Regions from separate parts of the Homo sapiens genome. Here all the other regions are reported to be linked to region 5. Evidence: microRNA targets listed by miRTarBase, many of them from high-throughput screens and not tested one by one. Region 5 holds a microRNA gene; each other region holds the end of a gene's coding sequence.
Evidence for each region. Region 5 holds the annotated microRNA hsa-miR-128-3p (UCACAGUGAACCGGUCUCUUU, at 1,993-2,013, opposite strand). A microRNA usually pairs through its seed, bases 2 to 8, with sites in the 3' UTR of a target mRNA and lowers its output. Matches are read on the target gene's strand: a 7mer-m8 pairs with bases 2 to 8, a 7mer-A1 pairs with bases 2 to 7 and ends in A, and an 8mer does both.

Region 1: miRTarBase lists CREB5 as a target of hsa-miR-128-3p. The part of its 3' UTR that is shown has no 7-base or 8-base seed match.
Region 2: miRTarBase lists SERTAD4 as a target of hsa-miR-128-3p. Seed matches in the 3' UTR shown: 7mer-A1 at 1,339-1,345.
Region 3: miRTarBase lists HTRA4 as a target of hsa-miR-128-3p. The part of its 3' UTR that is shown has no 7-base or 8-base seed match.
Region 4: miRTarBase lists POPDC2 as a target of hsa-miR-128-3p. The part of its 3' UTR that is shown has no 7-base or 8-base seed match.
Region 6: miRTarBase lists RO60 as a target of hsa-miR-128-3p. Seed matches in the 3' UTR shown: 7mer-A1 at 862-868 and 7mer-m8 at 3,902-3,908.
Region 7: the mRNA of INTS8 is a reported target of hsa-miR-128-3p. The part of its 3' UTR that is shown has no 7-base or 8-base seed match.

What each region holds. Positions count from the first base shown.
Region 1 is chr7:28,818,597-28,822,665 of GRCh38, forward strand. It overlaps CREB5 (cAMP responsive element binding protein 5), which reads left to right. Exons shown (of 11, transcript NM_182898.4): 11 at 520-4,069. The coding sequence ends at 683. Among named protein-coding and RNA genes, the nearest start is that of TRIL, 140 kb to the right of the region's middle.
Region 2 is chr1:210,241,738-210,245,798 of GRCh38, reverse strand. SERTAD4 (SERTA domain containing 4) reads right to left here. Exons shown (of 4, transcript NM_019605.5): 4 at 1-4,061. The coding sequence ends at 3,462. Among named protein-coding and RNA genes, the nearest start is that of SERTAD4-AS1, 9.9 kb to the right of the region's middle.
Region 3 is chr8:38,987,603-38,991,671 of GRCh38, forward strand. HTRA4 (HtrA serine peptidase 4) reads left to right here. Exons shown (of 9, transcript NM_153692.4): 9 at 334-1,061. The coding sequence ends at 496. TM2D2 (TM2 domain containing 2) reads right to left here. Exons shown (of 4, transcript NM_078473.3): 4 at 1,206-3,943. The coding sequence ends at 3,730. Among named protein-coding and RNA genes, the nearest start is that of TM2D2, 6.9 kb to the right of the region's middle.
Region 4 is chr3:119,644,670-119,648,738 of GRCh38, forward strand. It overlaps POPDC2 (popeye domain cAMP effector 2), which reads right to left. Exons shown (of 4, transcript NM_001369919.2): 3 at 3,450-3,999. The coding sequence ends at 3,493. Among named protein-coding and RNA genes, the nearest start is that of POPDC2, 14 kb to the right of the region's middle.
Region 5 is chr2:135,663,390-135,667,458 of GRCh38, reverse strand. MIR128-1 (microRNA 128-1) reads right to left here and starts at 2,062; the gene lies at 1,981-2,062. The region is part of intron 19 of R3HDM1 (R3H domain containing 1); the gene reads right to left. It overlaps LOC124907893 (a long non-coding RNA gene), which reads right to left. Exons shown (of 2, transcript XR_007087245.1): 1 at 902-4,069. RefSeq lists an enhancer at 2,645-2,744.
Region 6 is chr1:193,084,307-193,088,375 of GRCh38, forward strand. RO60 (Ro60, Y RNA binding protein) reads left to right here. Exons shown (of 9, transcript NM_001173524.2): 9 at 273-4,069. The coding sequence ends at 425. Among named protein-coding and RNA genes, the nearest start is that of GLRX2, 19 kb to the right of the region's middle.
Region 7 is chr8:94,880,001-94,884,063 of GRCh38, reverse strand. It overlaps INTS8 (integrator complex subunit 8), which reads right to left. Exons shown (of 27, transcript NM_017864.4): 27 at 2,318-3,946. The coding sequence ends at 3,830. It overlaps CCNE2 (cyclin E2), which reads left to right. Exons shown (of 12, transcript NM_057749.3): 10 at 1,172-1,283; 11 at 1,775-1,932; 12 at 2,319-3,840. The coding sequence ends at 2,432. Among named protein-coding and RNA genes, the nearest start is that of CCNE2, 13 kb to the left of the region's middle.

The DNA.
Region 1 (4,069 bases), not on the chromosome of region 5:
GCTAGTGACTGGCCTCAGTTTACCAATATGTAAAATGATCCCTTCCTTCAGACCCCAGTTTCTGCATCTGGAATGCCAGTTGGTTAAATGATAGTTGAGTAGGGATGGTGGGAGGAGCAGGGATTCATGGCTGAAGGTCAATTTATTTTCAAATAATTTTTTAGATTGAGCAACACAGATTCTCCCACCACATGTGAGTATTTTTCCACATTTGATATACGGATGGCTATTTAAAAAGACAAAATGGGGAAGTTCACATATCCATGACTGAAACACATCAAATCATTTTACTGATACAGAAAGCATGGCTTTGCTCGTAGATATAAACTGGAAAGGCATAGCATTGTGACAACAGTTGAAAATAAAGTTTTGAAATTAACTTTCAGAAGAAAATGTGTGAAACTTCTATTTCAAGTAAATATCTAGTACAGTTTCTCTGAGGAGTCCACAAGTCCATACAAAAAAGACCTATATTGGTGTGTGTGTATGTGTGTGTGTTGTCTTTTTTTTTCTCCCTAGGTCCAGAGAGTAGCCCTCCTGCTAGTCCTGTCCCAGCTTGCTCCCAGCAACAAGTCATCCAGCATAATACCATCACTACTTCCTCATCGGTCAGCGAGGTGGTAGGAAGCTCCACCCTCAGCCAGCTCACCACTCACAGAACAGACCTGAATCCGATTCTTTAAAATGCACCATCAGACCTGGCCTCCAAGAAGAGCTGTAGCGTACCATGCGTCCTTTCTTTTAAGGGCATTTTTAGAATTAACTCAGACCTGGAAGACTCCTCAGTTCTTCAAAGACTGGCTTTCATTTTTATAGTTATTATGGAAATGTTGTCTTTTATACTTAGTTATATAAGAAAAAAGGGAGTTATGCAATTAATATCTATCAGCTTGGGAAACGCTTTGGTGCTTTTCTCCAGTTTTCTGGTACCAGTTACTTGTTTATAAACTGAACCTTTTCTGTATATAGCCATGGTTTCATTCTTATCAGTCCAACCCTTTGCCTGAAACATTGAATCTTGTTAAACCACAGCTTTTAGCTAAAATGAGGTATACCTAGATGTCAAGTAAGACAGATCCAAGGTAACTGGGTAGGAAATCTTTTGACATCTTAACTCATGTTGAGTTTGTGCTGTGGTGTCACCAGAATTCCAGATAAACACACAGCCTTTCCCATACCTTTTTTTTTCTTACTATAAAATATTATAAGATCCATTGATGTCCAAATAATACCACCAAGCATCTCTTCACCTCTCCTCCTCTTGGTCCACTTGCTAATGCCCAGTTTTCTTCTCCATTTCCACTTTTTCTTAGGCTCCCTATTTACTATTCATTTTGACTTCCTTCTGTTTTATTTTTTTCCCTTTAGCATTGCATGTGAATAAGAAAATAATGTTTAAAGAAAAAAAAAAAAAAGCAAACCTCCAAAACGTGGACCTAACCATTGCTTCACTTACACTTCACCCACAGCTGGAGTTCATTCAACTCTTGCTTTTCACAAAATAGTAACCAGGAGATGTTTAATGTGCCTGATTTAATGTTTTTAATAATCACAGCAAATGAAAGGTGGTTTAGTTATAAGTGAAGCATGGTTGAATACCAGCTGGGGAGACACTAGGGAAGGGAGCTTTGTAAGCCTTGATTGCGAAAGTCCAAATTTTGATGTGGGGCTATAACATGACACCCTTGGATTGCGACTGGTTTTATACGGCCTGCCTATAACGTTGAAAATCCATGTACTACATAATAATTCAGAAGGGCTCTATTCACTACACAGATTACATTGTTCAATCATCAGCTGCTAATAGCCTAAGATTTATTTTTTTTTTTTTCTTAAGCCTATGGAACCGGCTTTGCTGTTCTGGGGGGTGAAAATAGACTAACTACTGGAGAAACAAAGAGAGAAAGAAAACCCAGTGTTTCCATAGGGGCACTTTTAGCCTTCCCACAACAGTTAAGCACTCTTTGACTGCTGAAGGAACCCCATGGATGAGGTGCAGGCTACTTCACTCTTTTTTTTTCTTTTTTGAGACAGAGTCTCACCTATTGCCCAGACTGAAGTGCAGTGGTGCGATCATGGATCACTGCAGCAGCATCCTCCGAGTTCAAGCTATCCTTCCACCTCCGCCTCCTGAGTAGCTGGGACCACAGGTTCACATAACCATGCCTGGCTAATTTATTTTTACTTTTATTTTAAAATAAAAGATGAGGTCTGTCTTATGTTGCCCAGGCTGGTCTCAAACTATCCTACTTCTTCCTCCCAAAGTGTTGGGATTATAGGTGTGAGCCACTGCACCCAGCCTACTTCACTCTTCTGAATTATTCTGATTTATTTTCAACAACTTTTGTGAACTTGCCCGTGATACAAAGCAGATAGTCCCTGAACCACAGTCGTGCCTCCTTGAAACAAGCCATTCTACTGTGCTAATGTTTTAATATCACATCTCACAAATAACAGGGGTGAATGTTTCTCTCTAGCAATCTAGGCAGGTGCTGGTGTTTCATCTCCATTTGAATGCTTGACCTCTTAATGTGTGTGTGTGTGTGTGTGTGTGTGTGTGTGTTCATGGGTTTTAAAAGAACAGTATTTTACAAAAGGTGTAGCTTTTATAAGAGTGCAGAAAAGGGAAGGATGTGTTTTTTTCTCTCACTATAGTATAAGAATCTATTTTGGAGAAAAAAAGAAAATATGAGGGTCTCGAAGCATGATTTTTATATAACTAGTTTCAGTTTTATCTAATAACTTACTTTTTAAATCAATATTTATCAACAATCTTTCCTTGTATGCAGTGCTTTCAAAAGATGGTTTTGAGTGTCCAGTGAAACTTATGACTTGGATATATGGTTGAAGAATCAAAACAAAAGCAAAAAAAAAAAGCAAAAAAAGAAAAGAGAAAAAAAGAAAAAATGCAAATGGAATAATTTTCTATTATATTTTAGACAAACATATCATTTTCGAGTATTTTAAATACTGAATTCATAGTTGTTGTTTTTTAAATTCCAACAGTAACAGCTGAATGGTTTAATCTGACTGGCTTCCTAAGAAATGTTTAAGACTCAGCTTTAAAAAGAAGTTAACATTCATATCTCTGTTTTGAAATCAAAAATCATATTTCAAAATTCTTTCCTAGGACCATCTATGTGTCTCCCCTCCCCTCCACAAAAAGGAGAAAGAGTGCATTAAAATGTTTAGTTGGGTTTTTTAATTTTTAATTTTTATGTTATGTTTTGCTTTGTTTTAAGTAAACAAAAATTTTTCTTTCTTTACTGCATGCATAGCACTTAATAAAATGGATTTTTAAAAAATCCACTAGTAATATCAGAATGTCCAGGGAGTGACTGTCACTACAATGATGGTTTAGTTTACTTCTGTTCCACCTTTTGATTGAAATATTTAGTTGTTAGGCTGAAAGCCTCGGCAGTTAAGAACTTGCCTGAGTTTTCTTCGTTCAGCAACTTGACAGTTTGACTGATGTGCATTATATATAGCTCAATTATGTCTGTTTTTTATGCTAAGTAGGAAAACCAACCACACACATTAGCAAACCGGCCTCAACATATAATTAGAATAAACTGTCTTCTTGTTCTACTCAGGGCCTTTAGGTGTGTTCATTCACGGTATGGAAATACAGTAAATGAAAGATTCCAACTAGTTGTCAGTGCTTCTTGAAATTCCAAACAGAAAGATACATTGGTCAAATCCAACACTTGGCTTATCAATATTAAGTCTTTTACCTAAAGGCCCAGCCGTCACCAGACAACAGAATAATCAATCTGCCTGAAAATCCCTCCTCCTTGTCCTACACTTTTTGCCTGTTTGGGAGAATATCTTTGTACTCCATTCTCCTCCCTCAGCCAGTTACTGGGTCACCCATCCATGTGTTCATGAATCAATCATCACGGCCTGCAGAGCACCTGTCCTAAGGAGGGAAAATCCTGTCACACTGCCTCTCCCCATTCGTGTGTGGTTTTCTTGATCGGTGAGATCTGTCTCTGAAGTCACTGCCAGCCTCCCTGGGAACGTCTATAGTGCCTCCCCTGCCTTATGTGATGGGAGTTAACAACTCAGA
Region 2 (4,061 bases), not on the chromosome of region 5:
TGATACACAGAAAGGAAGTCACCAAGTGGAGCTGTAATACAAGTTCATAACTGGAGGGGTGGGTAGCCATGTCTTGATGGAGTTAACTATGAGCTCTAAAAATAAATACTTTCATTCCCTTGCTTCACCATTTAACAAAGAAGCATGTAAAATGTTCTAAATTTCTGTTGTCTTAATAAAAGGTCACGCCAAAGATGCTTTCCCCTAATTTTCAATTCATTGCCAGGTAGTGGCATCTGCTGGTTTTGAATTTTTCTGTCTTCCTCCCATGTCCCCTGTCCCTGCAATCCTGTCCCTAGGACCCCTGCAAAGTGAAATGTAGAATAATAGGATTTTGAGTGGAAAGATGATGATGAGACTTTTGCCCTTTGAAAATCCCTTTGCCAGACCACCTTCTATAATCTGCTGTTTTTAGAAAGGAAGGACCAGAGACAAAGGTTAATGATTTCATTAATGATATGCACCCAGATGCCTAGGGGAATAGCAATTAAAGGCACTCTTGGGGAGCAAGGCAACTTTCTTAAATGAAGATTTCCCCTCATTTATCTTTTAATAGTCTTGATTCTGTCATATCAGGTTTTCCTTAAAGCAGAGCACAGCAATGAGAGAAGGTGCAGCTTCCAGGCGCGTAGATACCAGTGTGGGTGGAGGATGTCTTAGCTTTTCCAAGTTGCTCGAGATAAAACTATAGAATCCAGTTAAGAGATATAACTTACTATGAAGGGTGTCCTGGCCACTCTAGGAAAATCTAATGGAATATCTCATGCATAAAAGACAATGCTGGGTGCATGGGAGGTGAACACAGGAAGTCCTAGCACTCTCGCCTACTAACAAGAGAATTTTTGTGGTTTGGATGGGTGTTTAGGAATTAGTGTTTGGTGAAGAAATTTTTTTTTGCAATGCTAGAAATATCCTGGAAACAAAAACTTGATGACTAAAAAGAACAGATTTTTATGCTGCTGGATTCAAAGGCATCACTTATCCTACAGAGAAGTGATTCTAGTGGGTTCTACCGAACAGGTGCAGGCGCTCACAGCTCAGGTGAGTGCTGCTGAAAATCACCAACTTTGTCATTTTACAGCTTTGGCCTTCAAGAAAAACACTATCTAGTAATGCTGGGGCTTTTAAAAAGCAGAAGGATAAGTCCTTTCGTTCATATTTAAATCTCCATGAGATATTACACTCATAATAAGAATGCTACATTTGACAAATTAATTAGTTTTTAACTAGCTTTCCCCTTTATCAAATATTAGCTCCTAAGAACATTAATATGGAATTGTATGGAATGCTACTAGCAATAATCTGTAGCTGTTATAACTGTTTACATATGGGTCATCTTCACAGTTTGACAGTTCATAATGCAATCAGCTAAGATTCAGTATTTATGGCTTCGTGTTATACAATTTTTTTCAGAGACACTCCAGAAAGGAAAATCTTTACATTCTTTCAGACATAACCTTATTGATCACCACATCATCTATTAACATTGTGCTTCTTAATCAATAGAAACTTAAACTTACGAACTAGGATCATTCTGAAACACCTGTCAGATTGGCATTTTAAAATACTCTTTAATTTAGAAAACTCCTGTGTGGCCACTATCCACTACAGTTTCTAGATGTTTTGAGTTTTTTAAAGGAGAGAGAATAATGGAAAAGAGAAACATAGCCAATAGCCATTAAAATTTAAAAAACTTAATGAATTTTTATCATCTTAATAAATATATATCAAGAAAACCTCACTTTATTACAACACATTCATATACAAGCATCTATTAGCTAAGTTTTGAACATCAAATGTTTATCAAATATTGAAAATAAAGGACAAAACATTACTAGACTATTTAACTATAACACAAGAAAATGTTTTAAAAATTGGTCTTTGTGGACAATTGTCCAAATGATCCTACTCATACACTGTATGAATGAGACCTATATTTAATATTAATAGCAATAATAAAAAAAGCTTTATCTTGGAGAAACTGGGAGGGCTTACTTATTTCCTCCGTTTGGCATTTGGTTTCTGTGAAGTATTATTTGAACAGGCCCAAGTCAATTAGTAAACTTGGAAACTGGAATACAGTTTAGCAGGAAGAGTTGGCTGGAGTGGAAGGAAGGATGGTAGGAGGGCCACTCTGAACACTTTTCAAATGTACAAGTTAAAGATATTATTTGGAAAATGTAGACCAAATACATAGTAACTATTATAGATTAAGTCCCATTTCTCCAAAATAACTTTCAAAAACCTAAAGTCTTTACATTCTTTAAGATAAACCTTATTGATCACCACATCATTTATTAACATTGTGCTTCTTAATCAACAGCAAAGTTCATATATAAAAACCCACATGCTTTTATAATCTAAACAAGTGAAATGATGCAAAACAGAGAAAAGTATAATGCATGCCACTGGTTCGTGAACTTCATTGGACAAGAAAACAAAACAAAACAACCCAAAACCCAGAAAACCCCAACCCCAGCAACACACAGTTGCCATAGAAAAGCTCGAGCAGCCCGTGCTGCTTTCTAACAGCTCTCTCTCTCATTTCCTCCATCCCTATTGAAAAAACGGCGAATCCAAAAGCAATTGGGCATCAAAAATAAAGAATAGAGATGTCGAATCAAAAGCTGAACACAATAGTTCAAAGTTAACAGTTTCCAAACCATATTGATCCACCCTGTGGTTTTTTTTTTTTTTTTTTTTTTGTCCTGTTTGTTAAATCCCTGCTGTAACTCTGATTTATCCTTAATTTTCACATTGGCAAAAATTAAGATAAAAGTAAGGCACCAAAAATCGCCCTGTATAACACCTCTCTAAAAGCCTCATCACCCATCACAGGCAAGCCAGAAACTTGCAGGGAATACCCTCTCTGTGTAAGACTGTTGATTGCCGCCCCTAGACAGGTGTGTTTCATTATGTTACATCCTATTTTCATCTGTCACACAAGACTGTTAGGTACAAATACTTAACAGCACCATTAAGCCATTTCATCTAGCTCCCTGTCTTTAGTCTTTTATTTAAAAAAAATATTGTATCATATAGAAGAAGCAGGTATCTTTGCTGGTTATATTGATTTGCTTACCAAATAACTCCCTAATTAACTGGCAAACATGTAGAAATTTCTTAGCTAGTGACAGGCTCCTTGGGGGGCAATGGAAATATTGCAAGGGCACATTGTCCCCCAATCTCATCTACTGATCTTTTCCGTAAGAAAACTATGATATACTTTTAAGCATTAAGTCAATCGTTTCCTTGGTAAAAATCACCACATTTATAAGAAGCTCGCTGATGCCTGCTATACAGATGTTTTACGCAATCTGCTCTCCAGGCATTAAAACGACATGGCATGTTCATGGCATAATTTTATCTGTTGTACAAAACTACAAAATCCATTCAAAATAAAATTTACGAGAGCTAACTGATCATGCTGTGCATGCTTCAAAGTTCGGTGAGAAGATGGCTCATATTTTACTTCCTTTGCTGCAGCACAGTTTGTTACTTGGTGGTGAAGCCTCCTTTTTCCGTAAGGACTTTTTCCAAGATTCATTTACATTGTTTCTTTCATTATATCCGGTCTCAAAATAATCATAAAATTGGCCTTTGCACTCAAAAGCAAGGTCATTTCCCACAGGTTCGTGGCTGAGGGGGCCACCATCTCTGTTGGTGTCATCATTTGCTTTCTCATCATTTAATTTGGCCTTTTCCTGAACACCAAGTGATCTGACATTAGTGACAAAGATTTCATTGGCAGGTATCTGGCCATCACTCTTGTAAATAGATGCACTACCTACATCAAAATCCACCTGGCGGGAACAACTCGGTAAAGGCAAAGGGGGAGAGGAAGAGGAAGATGAGGAGGAAGAAGAGGCGGAGGGAGAGGAGGCAGCAGTGGAGGCACTTCCAACATTAGCATTGACAGAAAGGGGTAAATTTAGGTAGTGGCCACCACATTCTTGGTAAAAGCAGCAGGCATGAAACTTTTCACATTCCTCTTTGGCCATCCGTGGTCGTTTTCGGTAAGGGCAGTCTTGAGCCATAAACCACTCTTGGGCAGAGGTGCC
Region 3 (4,069 bases), not on the chromosome of region 5:
TTGAAGTTCACAGAGGTCAGGGGTTGATAGAAATTAAAAGCTAAACTCCCCCTTCCAAACCAACTCCCCAAAATGGGAGGAGTAAACTTCTCACATGATTCTGATAGGAAATTAATTTTATAAAGGTAAATAAGACAGTTGTCCTCTAGGTGACTTTTTTGCAGCATATTTTAGAATAGCTTTATGATTTGGAAGGATTGAGGCTATTTTCTCGTTTGTATGCTTAATGCCAGCAAAATAGTGCCATTAAGACAGAAATATTAAATTATAGATGGGGATAAGTAAAATTCTTGTTATAGTTTCATGATCCTCTTTTTTTTCTCCCTCTCTCAGCTCTGGATTGAGAGATCACGATGTAATTGTCAACATAAATGGGAAACCTATTACTACTACAACTGATGTTGTTAAAGCTCTTGACAGTGATTCCCTTTCCATGGCTGTTCTTCGGGGAAAAGATAATTTGCTCCTGACAGTCATACCTGAAACAATCAATTAAATATCTTGTTTTAAAGTGGGATTATCTAAAAAAAAAAAAACCAGTTATATCACGTGGTTTGTATTGGAGATGTGCCAAACATGGCAAGAAGTTTTTGGATCTTTTTCTTACAAAGAAAAATGGATGGTTATCAACCCAAATGCCCATCAATGACAGACTGGATAAAGCAAATGTGGTACATATACACCATGGAATACTATGCAGCCATAAAAAGCAACAGTCCTCTGCAGGGACATGGATGGAGCTGGAAACCATTATCCTCAGCAAACTAACGCAGGAACAGAAAACCAAATACTGCATGTTCTCACTTATAAGTGGGAGCTGAACAATGAGAACACATGAACATAGGGAGGGGAACAACACACACTGGGGCCTGGCAGTGGGTAGGGTAGAGGGAGGGAGAGCATTAGCAAAAATAGCTAATGCATGCTGGGCTTAACACCCAGGTGATGGGTTGATTGATAGGTGCAGCAAACCATCATGGCACACATTTACCTATGAAACAAACCTGCACATCCTGCATATGTACCTCAGAACTTAAAAATAAAAATAAAAAGAAAAATGGTAATGTTGTGAGATTACAATTAAAAAATAAGAAAAATGGAGTTTGAAACACATATACACATTCAGGGATCATTAGGTTGGGGTACTATACTGTTGCTAAGATGCCTGACTATGTCAAGTGGAAGAAGAACACAGTGCCAGGAAATCTGGGGGAACTGATAACATTTTATTAAAGGCAAGAAACAACTAAAAGGCAGGCAGCTTCTAATTTAACCTTGAGGGAAGGACACTGTAGTATTTTAAACCTTCTCTATAGCCATAAACTAGATATAACACACACATATACAAATGGATCTGTCTACCAAAATTTAAGAAACAACCTGAATAAAGTGCAAAGGCAATCAATTGTTAAATAGTACTCCTTTAGTCCATCAGGTTTTCAGGTTGTATCACATTTGGCCAGGTTTGTGGGCAGATGGATGATGGGTGTCATTTACAAGTCAAATGAAAACCAGTAATTTTGGATTGTCACATAGGAATACTGATGATTCTCAAATTACCACTCTAGCAGCGAGAACAACTTCTTTTGTCTCCAGCAGCTTTACTGACAGTAAGAAGGGCATCTTCAGTAGTTTCTAGTCTTTTAGCCCTTCAACCAAGCTCTTACCCCTGGCAACATAAATGACTTCAAGCCTTGGAGCTGCAAAATTTCTTTTTTGGTCAGAGTCTCACTCTGTTGCCCAGGCTGAAGTGCAGTGGCAGGATCTCGGCTCACTGCAATCTCTGCCTCCTCAGTTCAAGTGATTCTCTTACCTCAGCCTCCCGAGTAGCTGGGATTACAGGTGCACGCCACCACGCCCGGCTAATTTTTGCATTTTTACTAGAGACTGGGCGGGGGTGGGGGAGTGTGTCTCACCATGTTGGCCAGGCTGGTCTCGAACTCCTGACCTTAAAGGATTCACCTGCCTCGGCCTCCCAAAGTGCAGGGATTACAGGCTTGCACCATTGCGCTGGCCCTAAAGTTTCTTATTTTTTAAAGAAAACAACTTTTGGTAGGGTTATGAATATACTTAGGAGGTTAAAGTGTGAAATGAGGCAGGACTTGGTTAGGTGAAAAGTAGCATCTTATTTTGGGTAATATTATAATTTATGTTTTTTAGACTTCCCTTAGAAATTTTTTTAAAATATACATATGGCATCCTTGAACTCCCTTAAACTCTTTTATTTGTATAAATTTATAGGGTACCAGTACAATTTTATTTCATGCATAAATTGTGTAGATGAACCCAAGTTCTATGTAAATTCTGTGTATGTAGATTTTTCTGGGGAGAGGGTCTAGTTTCTTCATGACCCATAAAAATTTAATAAATACTATCTTAGGGTATAAAGATTATGAATTAAAAGTTTACCAATTGTTATGTTATAAGCAAGGTTAAGGTCAGTGTGGTACAGAACTTTCAAGACAGAATAGGATCATCTGTTTTAAATTTTTTACAGAAAATTGCCACCTTTAATAATGTAAAAACAGTGATTAATCAGGAATGATAAAGCAAGAAATTCTTAGGAAAGCTACAAAATGATAGAATGTATCCAGGGAAGTTATTTCAACTGTGATATTTGGTCTTAAATTCAATTATTATTAGGTAAACTGAGTGAGTTCTACCTTGTTTCTAGAATTTGTAAGTTATTCTGAGTAAAGCCTCTTCCATTGACTTGGCCACATTGCCCACCTTTGATTTTATATTTAATAGTTCTTTCAACTTAGATTGCAAACGATGAGAACTGAGTTTTTAAAACCACTTACAATCTGGAACATTTCCTTTTATTCCTGGTGACCGGGGAATGCAGAGGTGTGGCTGTTATCTCTTTCTGACTGCTGCAGCCCACAGGGAGAGCTAATCATGAAGAATAGTTTTACAGAAACTTGTATGAAATCTTAATTTTATTAGCATGGGCTGGTAAACGCTGATTTTTAGATTGGACAATTCTGCCAGGAGGAATAGCTCAACTCACACATCTGATGCCGCTGGCTTTCAAAACATAAGTGGAATGAAAAAATTATTGCACTGCATATACTGCCTCTGGAACATAATGGAGACAAAAGAGGGCTTAATAGGATGGCTCATTTCAAATGACTAGGTTTCTGCAAAACAAATATAATTTTGAGTTTATTCCCCCTACTGAAAATACTCATACAGTACTCCAAGTTGGTAAAATTTATTCTACATTTAAATTCAGAAAGTCAGAATTTCAGTGTGTATTACAATCCACGGCCATTTCTATTTCTGCTGAAGATTTTCATTGTTCAGCTTCAGATCTCCTTGCATGAAGACTCAGGGTCACAAGAGGAACATGGATCCAAATATTCATTTTGCTCAACTTGTTAGGTCCACTTGCTCCAAAGGACTGAAGATATAGCAATGTACAGAAAGGAAGACTATGGAAACCCATCCACAGCTTGTAAACTCGCCACTATCCTTTATGTTTTGTGCATGAGGAAAGGAACAAATTTGATTCCCCACAACACTTTTTGCTTGTCATTCCGTCTGCAAGGTAAAATCTGGGTTGAAATTCCAAAGTCCAAAGAAGCCTTCTTAACCAAACAAATGCCCTCCAAAAGAAGGAAAATAACATCAGGTCTGATATCAAAGAGGAGTTTTGAGCCTGTAGAGATGAATTCAGAAGACGGAGCTTTCACCCGCCTCCCTGGGCCATGATGGCAGCTCTTCTTAGTAAACAGTGCACCAGTTGCTGCCATCACTTGGCATCAGCCCTCCAGTAATTAGCAAAATAAGGTCAACAAACCACCAAATCCCAAGTCCTCCAAGCGTCAACAGCTTCCCTACTGCAGTGCCAGTGTGTCCCAAACAGAATCGATCCACACCAAAACATCCCAGGAAGAAGGAGTAGAGTAAAGTGGTTATGAAGTAGTGTCCGGTATACCTAGGTGAAAGGAATGAAAAGGAAGATGTTTTACTGCACGAAAATTTAAACCCTTAAGGATTAGTGAATTTAACGTAAGTGATGAGACAGTGCAGTGGACCCTCTGTGGCCTTTTACCCTCCATTT
Region 4 (4,069 bases), not on the chromosome of region 5:
TGTGTCATTCCTAATGATGCAGAATTCAGCCAGCTTCATGCCTCTCATATAAGTGCTGTGCCGGGATGAATAGCAATGAGCTTAACATTTTGATAACTAAAGAGCCAGGAAATAGATGGTGAATGGTGCCCTACTTTATGAAAGAAATAATAGTAAATTGCTCCCAATTAAGGGAATATGCTTATTCATTAGAGTAATAACCTTATAGCAAGTTTGATGGTAAATAAGTCAAATCAAACATTCAAAACACAATTTCAGAAAAAGAACTGAGGCTAAATTATCCCATGATCACAGACTACATTGAAAACTATCAGAAGTTTGGCTAATTTGATCATGTTTTCAAGTTGTTCTGAAAACCTCTATGGCCTGAAAAGTAAACGACATAAGTTTCCTTTCTCTCTATTGCTTAAACAAAGAAACATGAAAAACTATTCTCCCTATATTGCAAATTCCGGTATTTTAGAAAGTGAGCCTCATCAGCAGTTTTCTCATCTTGAGTTTTAGAAAAGGCTGAATTTGGAAAGAGGCATTTCATACGATAGTATGTATTAAGGGTTGAGGGCTTGGGGACTGAGTTGTGATCTCCTCTCTCATAAAATATCCGCACTGTAGGCCGGGCGCAGTGGCTCACGCCCGTAATCCCAGCACTTTGGGAGCCCGAGGCGGGCGGATCACCACGTCAGGAGATGGAGACCATCCTGGCTAACACGGTGAAACCCTGTCTCTACTAAAAATAGAAAAAATTAGCCAGGCACGGTGGCGGGCGCCTATAGTCCCAGCTACTCGGGAGGCTGAGGCAGGAGAATGGCGGTGAACCCGGGAGGCGGAGCTTGCAGTGAGCCGAGATCGCGCCACTGCGCTGCAGCCTGGGTGACAAAGCGAGACTCCGTCTCAAACAAAAAAAAAAAAAAAAAGAAAGAAAAAGAAAAGGAAAAGGAAAAAAAAATCTGCACTGTAATCACATGGTAGGTGATAGATTCTTCACAGGCATAGAATGGAGGGAACTGCTAGTTAAACAAGACCCACCACCACAAGGGCTGAGGAGAGTCCCAAGGTGCCAGAGAAATTGTAGTGAAATATCACAGAGAGTTCTTGCTGAAAGACACTCAGATGTCCTGGGGCTTGTGTCTACTGTACTGCGGACTGACTACTCCTCTTTTCTTCCTTTGAAAAACTTATCCTTGCCTTCTCAGATCAATCCAAGGGGGTTCCTGGGGACAGCTGGTCCAACACGCTCAAATGAAGAAAGTAAGGTTTAGTGAGGTATGGTTTGCAAAAAGTCACATATTTGATTAGTAGCAAAGCCAGACATAGAAGCCAGGACTTTGGACTCCCAGTCCTGGCCTCTTTCTCATTTACCATGCTGCCTGCCTCCTGATGTTTGGAAAACATTCCTAAAGCTGGGGATTTTACACCTTCACTTGAATGGTTTTCTTTATAGGCAGAGGGAAAAGTACTGATCTTTGGAAGAGTTAGGATTAAAAACTAATAAGATGGGGGTACAGGGTGTTTAGGAGGAAGAATAGATACAGCAAGGCAAAAAAGGTGGGAAAAAGAAAAAAGGAGGTAATAGGAGAGATAAATATATGAACAATAAAATGGAAGAAAACAAGAGACAAGTGAAGAGGGAGAAATGAACTGAGAAGACATAGAAAATGGACACTTAAGAGCAGCAAACTGGCCAGGCATGGTGGCTCATGCCTGTAATCCTAACACTTCGGGAGACCAAGGCAGGAGGATTATTTGAGCCCAGGAGTTCGAGAACAACCTGGGCAACATGGGGAGAGTTTGTCTCTACAAAAAAATTTAAAAATTAAACATTATCCAGGCACAGCGACATGTGCCTGTAATCCCTGTTACTTGGGAGGCTGGGATGGGAGGATCGCTTGAGCTTTTGGAGGTAGAGATTGCAGTGAGCCGACATCATGCCACTGCACTCCATCCTGAGTGACAGAGTGAGACCCTGTCTCAAGAAAGAAAAGGAAAAAAGAACAGAACATCAAACTGAGGCAATCAAGGACTGAGAAGAAATTGGAGAAGAAAGAAGAGAAAAATAGAACCAAGAAAAGAGAAGAAAACCAGGAAGAACAACATGAGAAAACAGAGAGCTGCTGTGAGTCGAAGAGAGAGTGTATAGGTGGATGGGCAAGTTGGACCAAGAGGGATCCATAGGACATAAGGAGCATGCGTGGATGCAGGATGAACGAGTAGGAAGGCGAACAGCTGCACAGAGGGAAAGGAGTGATCAGAGTTGTCAATGCACACTTCGGGGAACTCAACAAAGTGATCTGGGGTGTTAGATTGATCCTTGGAATTACCTCAGAATGAGCTGAACTATGGTTCTAAGGATGCTGGTAACACAGGAGATTGTAAATTCCATATCTACAAAACTAAATCTCTAACCTTTCATCAGTCATCTCTATGGCCTCTTTCATCATTTATATAACCTGTTTTTCAAAATAGACAAACATTCACTCATTCATTTCATGTACTCTGGAGGCCTTCCTCACTGGGCTAGTTTCTCAGGTAATTTATTGGTGCTTTCTGAAGAACCATGGGAGGCGCCTTCCAAATTGGGAACAATGGGATTTTCCTCAGGAAATTCAGGCCTACATCATGGTTGGGTGGAGTTACAGAGAAAAACATCACAGTATTATGAGGGCAGCCAGGGAAACATGAGAGCAATTTCCCAGAACCACTGGGCACAGCCTTTCTTGTAGACTCTCTGGGAGGGAAATTCTGTGAGGGAAATCCTGCACGCACTGTTAGGCCCTCCAGGATTTATGCACATCCTACCTCCCACAGGTGTGGGTGACTGGGGAAAGCCAGGCTGCCATATACCTATCTGATCATAGTAACATTTAATCATAGCAGTATCTAGTCCTCTGTCTGTGTGATCAACAAACACATTCTCCACTGGGTGAGAGGAAAGCAAGATGAGGACATTTTCCTCCCCGAGCTATTAGCTCATAATCACAATCCTCTTTAAAATATGCAGTTTTAACAGAGATGCCTGCCCAGTCTAGGCTAAATAACAACTGCTTTCCAGGACGGGCTCTGTATCAGGAAAGACAAGCAATCAGAATTAGAACCCTGCCACATTCTTTTTCTTTTAAAATGCATGCCACAAATAAAAGCCCCTTAAGCCCCAGCTGTGGCCTCAGCTATTAGAATAAACTTGCAAAAAAACAGCAATCTACCTTCCTGCTCAACGTATCAACCAGCCCACTTTCTAAAATGCAATCAAGTTAATAACGAATGAGTTTTTAAAATCCCTTCATGCCTTGCATGCACCCGGAGTGAGTTGCTATCTTCAAAGTTGGGTTAATGCCACTTTCTGTGAGTCCTCTAAGAGGAAATGTTCCACGAATGATTTTTTTTGCCCTAACAAGCTGAGTTAAGGCCAGCCATTGACAGGAATGTGCAGCGGCTGCCTTCTGAGTACTTACATAGGATCCTGAGCCGGTGGCTGTGCCCATGTTAGTTCTCCCTTCACCTCATGTACTCCCCATCACTCCTATAATCCATAAACGATTCTGATCCTGACACCTCCTCAAAATCCTCCAGCACCAGACTGGTGGAGTCCTCACCCAGTATGCCACTGTCTGGCCTGGACAACCTGGCCCGGGTAGGAGGTGCAGGAAAGTTGGTGGTAGCTGGAGGGGTAGAACAAGGGGGTGTTTGCTGGAGAGAGGTGGGTGTGGCCTGAGGAGGGGACACAGCTGGCTCACAGACTTCCTCATCACCCTTCTCGGACTCTGGTCCAGCATCTGCAGCAGTGGGACCCAGGACATGGTAGAGGCTGGGAAGGCGGATGTCAAAGCGCAGCCCAAACTTAGCAAAGAGCTTGTCATTGAGAGTGTAGAGCTTCTCTGAGATGTCATATCCCAGCAGAGCCGAGAAGAGGCAGGAGATGTATCGCTCTTTGGTCAGAAGAAGATGGAGACTTTTCCGGGGCCAGGAAATGTAGCTACATGAGGTCTCAGCAGTCAGAGTGACCTGAGAGGGGTCAGAAGCAGACAATAAAAGTTTAAACTAGAAAATTTGTCCATGCTGAGCACAGAGATCA
Region 5 (4,069 bases):
CAATAGTAAGTGATACCAAACAACAAAATAAATATCCAGATCTCAACATAGATTTTTTTTTTTAAAACACTACCATTCTGTTTTGTTAAAGGACTGCACTGTTGCAATATTATCCCATTTCTTTCAGCACTTTCAGAGGAAAGCACAATCAATTCTGCAAGCTAAGAGAACTAGGACAATATAAACTGATGGTTCAGGAACTTCCCTGGAGGGCTCCACAGAATGTTCTATTTTTAACTCTCACTTTAACCAAGAAGAGAGCAGGAAGGAAATGCAGTGCTCAGCACAAAAGTATTGAACAGGCATTAACAGGCTGATTTTATTTTATATAGGTGATCTGAACTAGCATTTGTTCTAAAGGAAAGCATTCTTAATAACACAGAAATAATCAGAAAAATTACAAAAAGTATTAAAGAAATGCTTAGAATACCCATGAATCTAAGGTTATTTCACTTAATAGTACCTATTAATTTTTTTTCCAGACTGTGCTTGTACAATAGAAGCACTGTGAAGGTAGTTTTCTTTTTTTTTTTTTTTAAAGATGAGCCATTTTACTAAAGCCAAATTTATTTGTAACTAGGCATCTACAAGACCAAATTGTTAAAACCTCAAGCTTATAATCTTGGGCTTCTGTCTGTGGCACTATTTTAGTAGGTGGGCAAGTTCAACTAAAGCCAGCCCCATGGGTGTATTTGGAAGGAGATGCAATTGCCATCACACTTGATTATCCCTTCTCATCTCTCATCCCCTCTTCTCTCACTCCTGTGCCTGAAATAAACATATACATATACAAAAACCAATTCTAACAAAAACAGTCACACAGAGTTTATTGCTCACAGCTATTTAAAGAACTATTCCATGGAAGAGTCTATACAACTCAAGGAAATCTGTGGGTACTTACCAGATATATTTGGCTCCAGATTTCAGTGGCGGCAGGTTAATGGAGAAGGGAAAAGGGAAATAGGTGGATTTGTAGGTATTATACAATGTCTGAATCTATGCTGAATCACACAATACATACTAAGAAATGCTCACAGAAATCAATGAAAAAACAAGAATAGCCAGAGCCACTACCTAGTAATTTACAAATACAAAATTCCTATTACTTGGATTGAAAGTTGTCAGTAAAGAAATTGACTTTGTGCCTTGAGTCCCTATTTGACATAGCCGACTCTCCTATCAATAAGCCCCCTCACCTGCTTACCCAGTAGTGCTGACTTTTCTTTGCTCGCCTTTTACACCCTAGTTACTCTTAAATTTGTGCCTTCAAATTCTGTCAACAATATGCACACATTGAAGACTGTTTATCCTAACAAGTTTCTTCCATAGTGTCGTTCATCAGGATCCTACCATAGTCTGCTGGTAACAAAGCTTAATCAACTTGGAACCATATGATTCTGGGTTATCTGGAAAGCTAAGACTAAAGATATAATACATTGATAATCTTTGAAGTTATCAAATGGTTGCAAAACTAAAAGTATAGTTTCACAGAATCATTTTGCTTTCCACAGGTATGCAACAACATCATCGTTTGGAAAAAAAAATTAAATTATATCGTTGGTAAGAACCGAGACCAAGTAGCTTCAAATGCATTTAGGTGTATTAGGTCCGTTTGATGTCATGCTTTCATATATAACAATATCCCTAAAAAGTTGTGTAGCAATAGGGAGAGACATATTTGACTTCTGCTAATGAGTTTGGTATGCTTAAAACATTAAGCTTTTTAGATAAGCTCAAAACCAAACTGAATTTGTCATCCAAATCTACTTTGGAAAAGAAATAAGCAATAGCTTTCACAAATTTTTAACAGGTAAATTATATTAGGCCAAAGATGTCACTTAAATTCTAATCCCTATTTCTGAGTATGATGCATGATTTAAAGGTATTACAATTAATGAAAAATATAAACAAATGTTAACACCTTCATACAGCATTAAAAAAAGCAAAAAAGCAGTGGAAACCTGAGTAAAAAGAAGCCAGGAAGCAGCTGAAAAAGAGACCGGTTCACTGTGAGAAATGTAAACCTCTCAGACAGTGCTACGGCCCCGAATCCAACAGCTCAGGAACAAGGCCAATTATTGCAAAATATTAAATGTATATGGTGAAGCTACAAACTTGTCAAGAGTCATAAGAATAATAAAAGCTACACAGAAAACAGCTAGGGCTTTGTAAACCTAAAATCTTCACTATAATTACTACCTGCAGAAAGTTTCTTTATACTATACCACACTCCTTATATGCAGTGTACTTCACAGTATTCAAAGCATACATTTTATGATAAAGGTTTAAAGTAATAAATCTTTATTAGTGAAACTGGTAAGTAATCTGATCTTTTGAAATAGTTGCTTTCATTGACTCCAGTTATTGACAGTTGGTTGCCAAGCTGTTACAAACCAATTCTCTATTATTCTACCTTTTAGAACTAGAAATGACTCACATGAGACACAAAGAATTATGGAGTTTTACAGTACACAGAGGCTTCAACAGACAACACAGTAAAAATTCCATACTTTGCAAATGAGTCCAACTGAAACTCAGTGGCTTTAAGTGATATGCCTAACACCAGTTACAAATGACTAAGGGCCATCAGGATTCTGACTTTTATTTTGTTGTTCTTTCCCATTATACAGTGCATTGTTCAGAAAGTCTTATGTGTGTAGCCAGGGTTTCTTCTGTTTCTGTTGACAGGGGTTTACTCAACCTTGTTTTGAATGAACAGTTCAGTAGTTTCACATTCATAACAAAAGACTAGTACATTCATTTCCCCAGCAGTAATGTTAGTCCTGATTTCAGTTGTGGTCCACTGGGACACATGGATAAAAGACCTAGAGCATTTTATCCTTGAGATATTTCCCCATCCTCCTCCCTATCCACCAAAGGAAAAATAATGAAAGATCCTGTATTTCTACTGCCCATACCCTATCTGGTCTAAAAATACTTTGCTCAGTTGGGCTTGTTAATTTAGGGCAAAATTTCTTTAAGTTCAAATACAAACTTTTAAACATTACTTGTGCCACAGTGAAAAAAAATTGCTCCAAGTCTACTAGTGTTTTCATTATTTGGTTGAATAATTAGTTTCACCCTTTTATGTAATTAAAAAAAAACATGCTTCTTGACACTGTGGGGTAAGCAAGTGTTGTTTGACAAGAAATACAAATATAAGAGATATGAAAAAGTATTTCTCATTTTTAATCAGATTGGGATAGTAGAATGTAGAGAGGTAAGAAAATAAAAACCAAAAGGAAACCCAGAAGTATGTTTCCATATAAAAATGTAAATTATGAGACAGTAATTGCTATATACCTGTAAAAAAACTCAAAAACAATAAACTATCATGTTAATTTCCCAGTACATTTTACTTTTCTACACTAGGGCACATACAAACATAAATGCACACTTTTCTGTTAAGTTTTTTTTTTTTTTTTTTGAGACAGTCTCACTCTGTTGCCCAGGCTGGAGTGCAGTGGCGCCATCTCAGCTCACTGGAACCTCCGCCTCCTAGGTTCAAACGATTCTCCTGCCTCAGCCTCCCGAGTAGCTGGTATTACAGGTGTGCGCCACCATGCCCGGCTAATTTTTTTTGTGTATTTTTAAAGTAGACACAGGGTTTCACAATGTTGGCCAGGCTGGTCTGAAATTCCTGACCTCAGGTGATCCACCCGCCTTGGCCTCCCAGAGTGGTGGGATTACAGGTGTGAGCCACCGTGCCTGGCCTTCTGCAAGTTTTGACATAAAAATTAATGATGAGCTAACTATAAAAAAGTCTTTAGATTATAACTTTTAAAAAAGAGTTCAAATCCCCACTAATTCTATGAAAAGGTTCAATACAATTACCAACACAACAGTTGGCACTGGCCCTGCTGAACTTTTCTTTAAAGGAAAATTTTCTATGATACTTATTAGCATAACAAAATTCCTTTCTCTTTTAGATAAGAATGCTTTGAGGATTTATTCCTTTTATTCTTCAAACTGAATGAGTCAACTAACTTAAGCTGTAAGTTAAGAGGATACTATATAAAACAGCTGAAAGGACAAGTCTAGCTTTTATAAAGTGTTATATTATGACTGA
Region 6 (4,069 bases), not on the chromosome of region 5:
GCCTAGGCTGCTCAATAATGTACACTGCAGCCCATAGAACAAGTAAAGTAATTGAAGAGAGAAGTAGAAATTTCAGGCAGATTCTTATACAATTTTATTGTCCCTTCTTCTAAAACTCCCATATTCTAGCCTTAAAAGATTGACCCCCGCAAAAAAATGACTTTGTATTTAAAAAGCTCTGGTAGAGAAATGTTAAAGTGTTTTAATTTTGGAGGTATTTTGCATTTCCTTACATTTATGTTTTTAATATGTATTTTGGTCTTTTTCTACAGAAAATGGATATTCCAGCTAAATTGATTGTTTGTGGAATGACATCAAATGGTTTCACCATTGCAGACCCAGATGATAGAGGCATGTTGGATATGTGCGGCTTTGATACTGGAGCTCTGGATGTAATTCGAAATTTCACATTAGATATGATTTAACCATAAGCAGCAGCACGATCCAGAGATCCATTGCCATCAGTGATCTCACTAAAAATATACAGCTACTTCCCAGCTAATCTCCACCCAATGAATGATGATGGTATAGTATGTGCATAATGGAAAGTTACCTTACTGAAAAAAAAAAAAGAAGGAAAAATAAGATGGGCCCAAAGGTCTATCTACTAAACTAGCTCTTGGGGAAATAGCTTCAGGATACTGTAGTTTCCTCTATCTAATAGAGAACTTTTTGTTAACAGACACTGTAAAATAGTTTTGCTTTGTTGAATAATACGTGTGTACCTAAAAGAGGTAAGAGCAAAAAGTGTAATTCCACATCATGTTACTTGAGAAGTGCTTAACGTTTTCTTAAATGTTTTCATTGGGAAAGGACAGCTTTGATAATGTCCAAATACTCTGAAATGCACTAGACCATATAACTGTGATGAAATATGAAACTCATCTGTAAACTTTTATACCAAGGGGGTAAAAAAAAAAACTAAGGCATTTGATTAAATTATGAATGAGTTTTACAAATTCCTTTCAGAGTTTTACTAAGATCACACAAATAACAGCTTTCTTATTCAGTGAAAAAGATATTTTATTTCTGATGTTTTATTTGCACTTGTGGAATATGTTACCATTAATCAGAAACATCATGGCAACCCCTAAGAATAGACTAAGTTTGTGTTGGCTGAGGGATTCTATTTGGTTTGCTTTTTTTTTTTTGCTTTGTTATATTTTATTGCTACAAGGGGTGTGACTTGATAATGATTTCCTCTGAATTATAATAACATAGCCAGATGTAGTCTCACACTGTTTTTCATACTCTTAAGTGTAAATAATATAAAATGTTTCAAGCGCTTAACTCCCCCTCATTCACAAAGTATAACAATTAAAATCTCAACTATAACCAGTTTAGCTTTTTCCTTACTTTTAAAATAAAATTTTTTACTTTTAACTATTTTTTTAGTTAATATTTTTAAAAGTATACATGTCAATGGCCTCTTTGTCCATTATTCATTTTGTGGCAAAATATTCTTCTTTGATAGTGTAAACAAATAATAAAGCAATCTAGGTCCTTTAGGTTTGAAAGGCAATTTTTGAGTAGCATATTACCAGCTAGCCAGTCACTAGGAATTTTTTTCAGTATTATTTGTATGTATTAAACTTTTCATTACACTAAAGTGCATTATTTTATTGAGCAAGTATCCTTCATTGTGAGGTTTAACATTAAAGCAATCTGTTGAAATGCCATTATCTTTGCTCATAATTTTATTATGGCCGTCTAAGGTAGCTTACACATAAAACCTGTTTGCGTATCTGTTGTTCTCTAAATATTAATTGAAGATTTACTGAGGATTTGTAAGGTCCTTCTCGCTGTTATGTGAAAAGTCAAACTGTAGTTAATGTAAATTATAGCCTTTTAGGTGCTTGGGGGTTAGAGGGTTTATGTTTTTTGGGAAAGGGGGACTTTAGTAGTCTGAGGATTTCTGTACATATTTTCTTCTGTTTTATGTGAAATTTGGGCTCTGGGAATAAGAAAATATTCCTTTCAAATTTATTTGACATATTAATGCTGGTTTTGATATGTACCCATTCCTTCAAGGCAACTGGTATCAGTTTTTAAGTGTGATTTACCTGAGATATTTTTGTTCAGCAAAGCTCATAGCACCCTCACCCCCACTCCAGACATGCATTGCTTCTGATGTTGTTCACGTTTTTAACCCTGTCAAGCATTGAACTGAATATATTAGCTACTTTTGACACATTAAAATATTACGTTCAGATTGAATTTAAAGTTTAAAGAAACTAATAGAATTACGTAATAGTTATTGAATTGTTTAAGTAAACCCAAGATCTTAAAAATTATAACATGATCATTTTATTCCTAATAGAAATGTTAAATAGAATATAGTACAAAAGTGCATTACCTTCAGTTGTGTACTATTTCCATAATACTTTTAGACAAATATATCTATAAGTTAATATTAAATCCATCAAGGATACAAGATTGGATGGATATGACCTTTCTGAAGTATTTAGGTAGGTCTAATTAAATGGACTAGGGTAACATTTAAGAAAGAAAGGATAAGTAGGAGAAGCTACCACAGAAGGTAACTTTTCAAATCATGGCATATTTGAGCTGGAAGAAACCTTAGAAACCTAAAAGCTAATTTTTTAAATTTTTGTTAGAGAGCTGAGGTCCAAGACAGAGTGTGATTTTGAAGTACTATAACCTAGAAATCTTGGTCTCTTCATTCCTGTGCCAGAATTTATTTCCCCACAACATGGGAATACATGGTCTCAGAAGAGTAGAGGATAAAATAAAATTATTTAAGACTTTTACCTTATTGAGTTATTAGGAAATAATGTATATACGATTGCTTTAGGAGTAGAAAAATAGAATGGGAACATGTATAATCTTGTAATTCATAGGAATCCTCAAGCACAATTAACCTGTGTTGCTATATATATCTACATATATAGAGAAAAAACAAAAACTTTACCTCATTATGAATAAAATGTACTGAAGTGATAAGTTTTTTATTTCCTGAGTTACTTTTAGGATTACTGTTAAATTAATATTTGGGAAAATACTGCTTTTAAAAACAATCCTGCAAGAATAAACAAACTTTATTTCCTAGGTAGTATGTAAATAGTTCCAGGATATAGTTGTAATTAGTAAAACAAAAACTAATCTTATAATCCCACCCTTTATTAGTTGAAAGTTCTTGGAAATTCCATTTATTAATACTTATATTATTTAGTAATCTATCTTATGAGAGTGTTAGTGAGGCAAGATGCTAGTGAATGGAATTTAGTGTTACCCTTTGACACCTCCTTTGCTTTATCTAACTTACTGTGTGACTGTAGACAACCAGTTTAACCTAAGTGATTTGATTATTTTTATCCTTAAAAAGTAACATATCTGTGCTTGGATCATAGAAGAATCAGTGATTTAATATTTGTATAAAAATTGAAACTGGGAAGAGGGCTTGCAATACAAGTTAGAATTCTTTTTTTTTTTGGTTAAAAACATTCTTGTTAATAAGATACGTATTTCAAAAGATAAAATGTTTTAGAAAAATAGCTCACTCAATAGGCCTAACAGTGTTTTAAAACATTCCTGTTCAGAGTAGAAAAATTTAGAAGAAAAATTTTCACAGCTAAAGTATTACCCAAAAAGTCACTATTCTCTACTGAAGAGGGAGAAAAAATATACTCCAAGATCTTCTTGGACAGACCTAGAAAAACAAGCTTATACTCTGAGGAAATGCTGTTAACAAACTTTTTTTTTTGAGACAGGCTATCCCTCTGTCACCCAGGCTGGAGTGGCATGATCACAGCTCACTGCAGCCTTGACCTCCCAAGTTCAAGTGATCTTCCCAAGTAGCCAGGAACACTGGTGTGCACTGCACTACCACGCCTGCTTTTTTTTTTTTTTTTTTTTTTTTTTTTTTTAAGAGACAACGTCTCACTGTGTTGCCCAGGCTGGTGTCAAACTCCTGGGCTCAAGGGATCTTCCTGCCTTGGCCTCCCGAAGTGCTGGAATTAGAGGCATGAGCCACTGCACCCAGCCAGCAAACATTCTCTTAATCTTTTAAAGTAACCAGTAAATCTACAAATAGTAAAGTACTATTTTC
Region 7 (4,063 bases), not on the chromosome of region 5:
TTTTCATCCAGAATTCCTAGCATCCCAAATTGTCCTAGGCAGCTATACCCTTCTGATAGTGATGGTAAATCTTTGATAAGCCGATAAACAATGTGGACTTTCTAGAGGTATATAACAGTAATATTTCACTTCCAATTCCCAGCTCTTCTCCCATTTCTCCTACCTTCTGGACCAATGAGGACAAACAGAATTGAAGTTTAATTCCACTGCACAAGTATCTTCTCAAATCTGTGAAATCTACCCCTTTTACACTATACCATTCCACTGCTACTAGTTCAGCTCTTATTGCCTAGATTATACAGCCTTTTAACTAATCTCACTGCTTAATAAACATGTTTTCTTCTAGTCTGTCTGCTTCACTGCATTCTAAGGTATCTTTCTTAAAATGGAACTTTGATTTAAAAATCTTCCAGTAGCTTCAAGAATCAGCCTATAAAATTCTGACTTCTTAAAGACCCTTTGTGATCCAATCTAGACCATGCCTCTTTCTAGCCACCACCCCTCATCTTTCTTGATAAGAAATGAAGGTACTCCTTATTTATTTTTCACCTTAGGAGTTCTGAACTGTGAACTGAGTTCCAAGTAATGTCCCTATACCTAGAACATTCTCTGCCTCCTACTCTTCCTGGCTCCCTTATCTTTTAAGACCCATTTATGGCAATTTGAGGCCATCACTATCTTTTCCAATCTGGATTAGGTGCCCTTCCTGCTAGTACATGTCACACTGTATTGCAACAGTCCTTCCTTGTCTACTTCCTTCAGGTTGGTGGCTTGTTTTTTTTTTTTTTGAGACGGAGTCTCGCTCTTTCGCCCAGGCTGGAGTGCAGTGGCGCGATCTCTGCTCACTGCAAGCTCTGCATCCCGGGTTCACGCCATTCTCCTGCCTCAGCCTCCCGAGTAGCTGGGACTACAGGCGCGTGCCACCAAGCCCAGCTAATTTTTTGTATTTTTTAGTAGAGGCGGGGTTTCACCGTGTTAGCCAGGATGGTCTCGATCTCGTGACCTTGTGATCCACCCGCCTCGGCCTCCCAAAGTGCTGGGATTACAGGCGTGAGCCACCGCGCCTGGCCGGGTGGTGGCTTATTTATCTCTAGATCCCTAAGGTTTTAGCAAGAGACATTTAGTACTCATCTTTCTCCTAAATTGCTTGTACTTTTGTTTTTCCTGTTAGCTTTTAGATCTGTGTATTCTAGCCATTGATTCATTAGAGTTCCAGTACAGAATACTGACTGCTGCTGCCTTGTGCCATTTTACCTCCATTGAAGTGGTTAAGAAAGCCTCAGGTAAGACTCTCTATTTGTTGTCTTCTTACCTTTTCACAACTTCTAATGGGACTACAGTCTCTGAACTTTAACATTCTGCTAAACATGCATTTAAAACTTTGGCAAAAAAAAAATTAGCTGTTCAGTAATTATCTTTCTGTTAGAAGTACTTTCCAATCCTGAATGTGTATCAACAAAAAGACCAAATGGAATTTAAATACAGTTGAAATGAATCAACATTATAGTTCTGCTTTAAGAGTTCTTTGGGATTTGACCATTTCAATTTCATATGTAGAAGGTACTGGTTAAGAAGTTCTGAAGTCCTTTTTCCCTTCAACATAGTCATGTAAATAGTTTGAGAGTGATAATCTGTTTTGACATGCTAAACTTCTTGGTTATGATTTGGTTTCTTTTAAAATATCTCAAAAACAGCAACAAGTACATCAGACATATGTAAGATAGTTTCTGATGTACAACCTTCATGCTTTTCTAACTTTTTTCTATCTATCTAGGTTTGGAGTGGGACAGTATTTCAGAATGTGTAGATTGGATGGTACCTTTTGTCAATGTAGTAAAAAGTACTAGTCCAGTGAAGCTGAAGACTTTTAAGAAGATTCCTATGGAAGACAGACATAATATCCAGACACATACAAACTATTTGGCTATGCTGGTATGTTTTTTTGTGAGTTTTTTGGCTTTGCTATCTGAATCTAGTAAGTCACCAAAACTGATGGTAGGAATAGAGTACTCCTTCAGGCAGTTTCAGGGGAAAGAAAGTTCTAAGGGGCACACTGATTTCAAAATGTAGAAAAGTTAATAAAATTACTTTGAAATCAAAGCAAGATTTGTGAAGTGTCTCAAGATCAATGCCAACAGTCTAGATAAAGAGTTTAAAAAATATATAACGTTACAGAAACTTTCAGAATATGACCCTTCACACTTGCAAAGACATAAAAAGACTATTAAAATTAGGCCTAAATAATCTCAAATAAGTACCCAGAAGTCTGGTTTGACTTTGATTTATGAAATCAGTGCATGATTTCTTCCCATGTATAGGAGGAAGTAAATTACATAAACACCTTCAGAAAAGGGGGACAGTTGTCACCAGTGTGCAATGGAGGCATTATGACACCACCGAAGAGCACTGAAAAACCACCAGGAAAACACTAAAGAAGATAACTAAGCAAACAAGTTGGAATTCACCAAGATTGGGTAGAACTGGTATCACTGAACTACTAAAGTTTTACAGAAAGTAGTGCTGTGATTGATTGCCCTAGCCAATTCACAAGTTACACTGCCATTCTGATTTTAAAACTTACAATTGGCACTAAAGAATACATTTAATTATTTCCTATGTTAGCTGTTAAAGAAACAGCAGGACTTGTTTACAAAGATGTCTTCATTCCCAAGGTTACTGGATAGAAGCCAACCACAGTCTATACCATAGCAATGTTTTTCCTTTAATCCAGTGTTACTGTGTTTATCTTGATAAACTAGGAATTTTGTCACTGGAGTTTTGGACTGGATAAGTGCTACCTTAAAGGGTATACTAAGTGATACAGTACTTTGAATCTAGTTGTTAGATTCTCAAAATTCCTACACTCTTGACTAGTGCAATTTGGTTCTTGAAAATTAAATTTAAACTTGTTTACAAAGGTTTAGTTTTGTAATAAGGTGACTAATTTATCTATAGCTGCTATAGCAAGCTATTATAAAACTTGAATTTCTACAAATGGTGAAATTTAATGTTTTTTAAACTAGTTTATTTGCCTTGCCATAACACATTTTTTAACTAATAAGGCTTAGATGAACATGGTGTTCAACCTGTGCTCTAAACAGTGGGAGTACCAAAGAAATTATAAACAAGATAAATGCTGTGGCTCCTTCCTAACTGGGGCTTTCTTGACATGTAGGTTGCTTGGTAATAACCTTTTTGTATATCACAATTTGGGTGAAAAACTTAAGTACCCTTTCAAACTATTTATATGAGGAAGTCACTTTACTACTCTAAGATATCCCTAAGGAATTTTTTTTTTTAATTTAGTGTGACTAAGGCTTTATTTATGTTTGTGAAACTGTTAAGGTCCTTTCTAAATTCCTCCATTGTGAGATAAGGACAGTGTCAAAGTGATAAAGCTTAACACTTGACCTAAACTTCTATTTTCTTAAGGAAGAAGAGTATTAAATATATACTGACTCCTAGAAATCTATTTATTAAAAAAAGACATGAAAACTTGCTGTACATAGGCTAGCTATTTCTAAATATTTTAAATTAGCTTTTCTAAAAAAAAAATCCAGCCTCATAAAGTAGATTAGAAAACTAGATTGCTAGTTTATTTTGTTATCAGATATGTGAATCTCTTCTCCCTTTGAAGAAACTATACATTTATTGTTACGGTATGAAGTCTTCTGTATAGTTTGTTTTTAAACTAATATTTGTTTCAGTATTTTGTCTGAAAAGAAAACACCACTAATTGTGTACATATGTATTATATAAACTTAACCTTTTAATACTGTTTATTTTTAGCCCATTGTTTAAAAAATAAAAGTTAAAAAAATTTAACTGCTTAAAAGTAAAGTTTTGCCATTGCTTGGAGAAACTTTTTTTTCCTTCTCTGCGCTGCCAGCTGTAACACTTCTTCTGGATTGCTTGCATTCAACTCTGTCTGGCCGATGGCTTTGATCTTCCAAAACAGAAAAGTGATGTTATTAGAGGTGTGTCAAAAATTAAGTTTTGTTGGTACAAGTAATATAAAGCTACCTACGTGCTAACAACGATACAGTTTAATGATTAACTGAAC